2 linked regions of the Homo sapiens genome follow. The protein of the gene in region 1 purifies or fractionates together with the protein of each later gene. This does not show direct contact. Each region holds a gene or a part of one and is shown in the gene's direction. Other genes may lie near its edges.

Region 1 (2,553 bases):
AGAGGCGTGTGGCGACTCAGAGCTGCCTGGGCCCTGGCCTCAGGTTAGGAGGGGAGTGCCACAGCCTTTATTTGACTGCAGACGTTGCTCAGGCATTCCTGCCTGGCACCCCCGGGGACTCAGGAGTCAATATCGATAGCGTGTCAGCCTCTGCCTGCTGGCCTTATCTCCCATCCCTCCAGGGAGGGTGTTCCAGGGCCTTGGCTATGTGGTGGGAACCAGTGTTCCAGCAGCAGCCCAAGGCTGGTAGACCAGACTGTGGAGTCAGAGGTCAGCTCTGCATGGGGGCAACTTTGCAAGCCTTCCAGGCAGTGAGGTGGGTGGCTTGGGAAGGGGAGTTCCAGGTTTTATGAATATTCAACAGCTGAGAAATTCCCATCAGGGAGCTGAATTGGTGGAAGGAATCCACCATGGCAAGGAAGCAGGCACTTTCCACACACCATTCCCATGTAACCCGTGATAGAGCTCTCCAAGGTGTCATTGTTGTCCCCACTTTACAGATGAGGAAACTGAGGCATGGGGATGTTAAGTAATTGGCCCATGGTCACACAGCTAATAAGAGGCAGAGCCACAATTCAAATCAGGTTGTCCAATTCCAAGCCTGGGCCAGCGCCACACTAGAAACACCTCTGCAGGAGGGAGGAATGGTCCAGGGGCCAAAACCGTATGACTTGGCTCCTTCCTGTTTGGGGTGGGATTCGGGGAAGGCAGGTATTGACAGTGTAATGGTCACTCCACAGAGGACAGGCAAGGCCACCTCTGAGTGATAGTCAGAGGGCTGGCCCAGTGGCCCGGCCAGTGTTCAGAGCCACACTCTTGTCATGTTTAATGCCTCGGTGGCACAGGGGGCTCAGCACCAGACTTCCCCTGTGGCTCATGTTTCTGAATAAAGGCCCGTGGAGGGCTGAGGCCTCTACCCGGTAGGTTGTGGGATGTTCCCGAGCCTGGCACAGGCTCCCCGCTCTGGCCACTGGCCCAGCTTTGAAACAGGAGGAACGGAAGTCTCAGTGGTGGGAGGCAGGGGAGGGCAGGCACCACCACCCCAGAGTGCCATGCCTTCTGGGGCTATGGCCCAAGGGGAGCTCAGCCTCTGCGGCTCAGAGGGTCTCCCAGCATTCAGACTAGATTGATGTCCTGGGGAGAGACCAGGGGGCACCTGCCAAGGGCAGTGGGGAGGAAGGAGACAAGCACAAGAAGGATCTGTAGGGGCAACCTTGGCTGGGATCTGGTGTCTCCACAAGATTGAGGCACAGCGGGCGGGGCTCTTCCTGTGCCCAGGAAGCCAGGCTGGAGTTACCTTTAGGGGAGCCTAGAGTCCTCTCCTTGGGGTAACTCCAGCCTGGCTTTCTGGGCTGTTGTGTTTTCTCTGGGGGCTTTCCTTTTTCATATTTCTGAAAAGCTCTTTTTGACAAACTCCACCCTTCTGTCAGCTCAAATGAGGGATTTGTCCACACGTAGGTCAGGATCTGTTCCATTCAGGAAACCTGTTATAAGCTCCCATCGTGTGCAGTGTCTCCGGAGGGTCCCCCAATTTGGATGTGGGTCTTGCATTCTAGAATATGGCCCTGTGCTCCAGGATGTGGCTGGAGGCTCAGGAGGAGGGTGCTGGGACTGCCCCCCCCCTTCCCCCGCCAGGCCCTCTGGGTGGCCCGCCAGCCACTGCCTGTGTTTCTGCCTCCTTTCACTCCTTTTGTTACTGCAGCCACAAGTTTTATTTCCAATCTCACTCATCTCTTTCCAAGGAGGTTCCCTAGAGCACCGCAGCCTGACACTCACCATTTCTAGCCCATGGAGCTTCCCCAGGCTGAATGTCCCTGTCTCCACGGCCATAGACAGGCAGGGCTTTGCCCTACCCTCTTTCCATCCTCCTCTGCCTCTCTGCACAAATCAGTTCAAATCAACACAAGAGACTGTGGCAGGCACTGTACTGGGCACTGCACCCCCAGAGTTGATGCAATTCCAGGAGCTCTCAGGTCTATGGGAACGTTAAACCAAGTCACTCTAAGGGAAGCAGGTGGAAAACGCCGTGGGGAGGCCCTGCAGAAGGAAATGGAGGAAATCTGGGATGGCTTTTTGAAGGAGAGGGCACTGACATAGGGTTTGACAGAGGAAGATGCAGAGGATGATTCCCCAGAATAAATGAAGAGTGGGTGGGAAACACTGGGTGTGACTGAAACACTGAGGGCGGAGTAGTGTGGCCGGCAAGACAATTTGAGGTCACACTGCCAGGTGACAGCCTAAAGGCCCAGGATGTGGCCTTACTTCAGTTAGCCATGGGGAGCCATAGCGAGCAGAACTGACTGATTCCAAAGGCGGCAGCAGCTCTACTGTGCTTGGCCAGTTCAGGACTGTGGCAAAGACAGACTTCTCCCTTCCGCAGAGCCTTCCCACTCACCGCGCTCCGGCCCCCGGCCCTGCCTGCTTCTTCCACGGCCCAGATGTTGACAGCTGTCCCTGTTCTGCCCCAAATGCCCTTTTCTAGTTTGGGAAACCAGAGAGGAAAGGGTGCTGGTAGAGGGATGGCCTGGGGTCTGGGCTCTGGGTCGGCCTCAC
Region 2 (3,813 bases), on another chromosome or scaffold:
TACAATTATTTACTTAGCTTTTATTTTCAAATTGTCTCCACCTTTTTTTTTAACCTTACTAAATTCATTTTAAAAGGAGATGAAATACTACCTTTAAGGAAAAACAAATATAATTTGCCATAAATAGATTATGGTTGAGTCCTTTAATTGTACTTATTATATAATGTGATTGGCTTTTAACTCAGATGTGTATGTGGTGAAAGCTCTGAGCCTCACACCTGCTGTCTGTTGCTAAAAAGGAATTGATAAGGCAACGAAGGGATGGGGAGGGGCTGTGCTTTGGGGAAGGAGCTACAGAGGGCAGGGCCTGGCAGCAGCACCAGACCATTCCTGGGCAGGAGTCAGCTAAAGCTTCATGCCAGGATGGTCAGGAGATTCCAGGCAGGGAGTTGTGGGTCAGGGAGAGCAGGTGCTAGGGGCCACAGCCCTGTAGAGGGCGGGTGCAGCAGGGTAGGAGAGCTGATGGCTCCAGGTGGCTGGAGTCAGGAGCATGACCGGCACTGGGGCAGGCAGCGTGGCTGTCTCCTGAGGCTGCTGAGTGAGCCCCCATGGGGGTAGCGGCAGCCAGCGAGGAAGCTGGCCTGTCATCCAGGTGAGCTGGGCTTTGACTGGAGTGTCCAGCTATGGAAAGGGGGCTGACACCTGTGCTTCCTCTCCAGGCCTCTCAGGAACCTGGAGCTCCTCGGCCAACAGCATCCTCCACATCGACCCCAAGACGGGTGTGGCTGTGGCCCGGGCCGTGGGATCCGTGACGGTTTACTATGAGGTCGCTGGGCACCTGAGGACCTACAAGGAGGTGGGCTCTAAGCAGCCGGAGGCACATGTGGCTCAGTGGCCTGTGAGGCGGGCCTGACCTTCTGGGAGGATTATGAAGACTTTTCCTTTTAGGGAAAAGCCGTCTGAGGGGTTGGGTCTGGGAGTCATGAGTCTGGGACTGGCCACTTGCTGACTCTGACATGGGGACAAGCTCCCTTTTTTTTCCAGGCTTCAGTCTCCCCATGTTCAAGAGGGTGTGATGAGGACAGGCAGCCTTGTAGGGTGGATTCCAGCTCCCATGGGCTTGGGTCTGGCAACCCCGGAGTGGGCACTTCCTGGGAGCCGGTGCTTCCCTGTCACCTGCAAGGCTAAGACTCCCTGTGCAAGTCACCCTTTGAGTCTGGAGGCGACAAAACCTGCTGTCTCTTCCATTCATCTCCAGTTGAGAATGAATCAGTGGGGCAAGTCTGGCTGAGATCCAAATGCATCTCATTTTTAGAGGCAGCATGTGCTTTATGGAACCTAGCAGTTTAACCTAATTGTTTGCATATTTAGTGCTGCGGCTCTGCAGTTTGGGCGAGCCAGTTGCAGACAGAGGCATCCTGTGACAATACAGCTGTGCTCTCCTGGAAAGAGCCTCTGGTCAGGGGATGGGGTGGCATGGACAAAGGTGTGTAGGGTTCAAGGGCAGAGCCTCGGGGGCTGGAACAGAGGGTGTGGGAGAAGCATGGTCTGGCTTTGTGATCAGATCAGAAAATGCACCAGATTCCAGGCAGTTTGGTGCAGGTTGAGGGTGGGGCATCTACAGCTAGACGGTCTAGGTCAAATCCCAGCTTGGCCACTGCGAGGCTATGACTGAGCAATCATTGAGTCTCGCTATGTCCCGATTTTCTTGCCTGTATAATGGGGATGATAGCGTTGTGAGGATTTAGTGAGTTAGCACGTCAGAAGCCCCTAGGGTGGTGCTCAGCTCATAGCCAGTGCTCAGCAGAAATTAGCTGCTGCTGCTGCTGCTGTTCCAGGGTGAAGGGGTAGAAGCTTATGCCACACTCAGTGGAGTTTTTTAAACAGTGCTATAGACCAAGGCTGTGTTTGCAGAGGTTACCTGGCACCTGGAGGAGCTCGAGAGAGCAGTCGCTACAGGGTAACTGGCCAGAGACTGAGGCCAGGCCCTCAGCTGGGATCACTGGGTGTGGCAGAATCTAAAGGCAGGTTTGGGAGAGACGGGAGGGAGGGAGGCACATCAGAGCTCCATGAGCATCCAGAAGTGAGGCTGGAGGGGAGGAAGGGCTTGGGATGACCAGGCTGCTACTGGTCCTTTGCTGAGAGGGGCACACAGAGGTAGGTAGGCCTGCAGGGAGGTGAGGAGCCTGGGCCGGGGAGCTAGAGATGTCACAGCTCTCCCAGGTGAGGCAGGAGGCACACCTGGGTGGGTGCGGCAGGAGCACTGTGAGGAAGGCTGGACAGGGTGGGGGCCTCAGCCCAGAAGTGGCCTCTGAAGCCCTGGGAGTGGGTGGGAGTGCACGGGCACTCCAGGAGTGCAGGCAGGAGAGGGGCCAGGAAGCCTTGGGCACTCTCTGAGGGTGGACAGGGAGGAAGGGGAGAGGAGGGCCAGCGTTGGGGGGTCCCAGGCTAGAGAGTGGGACACAGCCTCTGTCAGTCCCTGGAGGTGGATGGTGGTAAGCCCTGAGCGGAGGCACCGTGAGTTTGACAGTGATGCCTGGTCACCTACAGCTCTGCATGGGCCACATCCCTGGGAGCTGCAGGGGCTTCAATCGCATCCCTGCTCTGAAGTTCACCTACTGGTAGAAATCAGATCTCCTGGAGGCAGGGAGCGCTGGTGCCTGCTGAGAGAGGGAGGGGGGCCTTCAGCTGCAGGAAGTGGCCTTGGGCCTGAAGGGTGGATGAGGCTGGGCTCTGCAGAGAAGATGGGAGGGTGTCCTAGCCAAGGGAGTGCAGGGAGGTCTCCAGCCTGGGGCTGTTTGGGTGTGGCCAGGTACAGGATGGGCACAGGGGGAACAGCTGGGAAAATCTGGGCAGACTGGATTCTGGGTGGGGTGTGGTGCTGTACTACAGAGAAGTGATCATGGCTGTCCGAACAGCCAAAATCCTCAGCCCACCCAGATCGATTAATGAATTCAGGCCCGCTGCTCAGCGTCCAGTCAGCTGCTGGGGGAAGCAGCTTGTTCAATGGGAGAACTGGGCTGTGAAGTCTGACCAGACTGGGCTCAAACCCCCTCTCTGCCACATTCTAGCAAGGCGTTTAGGCTTTGAGCCTCAGTGTTGCCACCTGTGAAACGGGTGACACTATGTCACAGACTGCAGGGTGAGGTTGTGGAAACGCCCAGCATGGACCGGGACACAGGCGGCGCTCCATGAAGCTTCCTTGGCTCCCTCTCTAGGTGGTGGTCAGCGTCCCTCAGAGGATCATGGCCCGTCACCTCCACCCCATCCAGACCAGCTTCCAGGAGGCTACAGCCTCCAAAGTGATTGTTGCCGTGGGAGACAGAAGCTCTAACCTGAGAGGTACTTAATGAGGGGCTTGGGCTGTCTTCAGAGTACCTGGGAGCGGGGAGGTGGCTTCCTGTGTCCTCTGGATGGAGTTTATCTGCTTCTCCTATTCACACTCACACCAACTCCAGAGAGGGCATTTAGCCCCCACTCATCCACTCCTTCCAGCGTTTCTGAAATTGGAGTCCTCCAAAAGCTGAGCCAGTGAAAGGAATCTTCATAATGGAGCCCAGCTCCCAGAAGGTGCCTGTTCTGCACTGGAAATGTGACTTCAGCCCGAGGGCACCCTAGCAAAGAAAGCCACAATTTCCCACCGTGAATCCCAGAAACTAATGAATTAGCAGGACTCGTCACTGGTTTTAATTTTTGTAATGACCTCTCCCAGGTCATGCATAGAATGTTGAACCCCATCCCCTGCCCATGACAGCCCTGAACAGCAGCTGCCAGAAATAAGTAAGTCAACAGGGCTGTTTTCTTAAACCACCTCACTGGCAGAGTGAAGCACCGCCCTTCTCGTCCTGATTAACGAGGCAGCTCTGTTCCATC

What was found.
Region 2: the proteins of SLC6A9 (region 1) and NUP210 purify together in Homo sapiens (affinity purification with mass spectrometry; one large-scale study listed by BioGRID and IntAct). This does not show direct contact.

Annotation. Positions count from the first base shown.
Region 1 is NC_000001.11:43,998,053-44,000,605, reverse strand, and holds part of SLC6A9 (sodium- and chloride-dependent glycine transporter 1), read left to right. Parts: intron 1-2,380; coding exon of another isoform or gene 2,381-2,482; exon of another isoform or gene 2,483-2,553. UniProt on the Homo sapiens protein: Sodium- and chloride-dependent glycine transporter. Essential for regulating glycine concentrations at inhibitory glycinergic synapses.
Region 2 is NC_000003.12:13,322,778-13,326,590, reverse strand, and holds part of NUP210 (nuclear pore membrane glycoprotein 210 precursor), read left to right. Parts: intron 1-659; coding exon 660-796; intron 797-3,158; coding exon 3,159-3,282; intron 3,283-3,813. UniProt on the Homo sapiens protein: Nucleoporin essential for nuclear pore assembly and fusion, nuclear pore spacing, as well as structural integrity.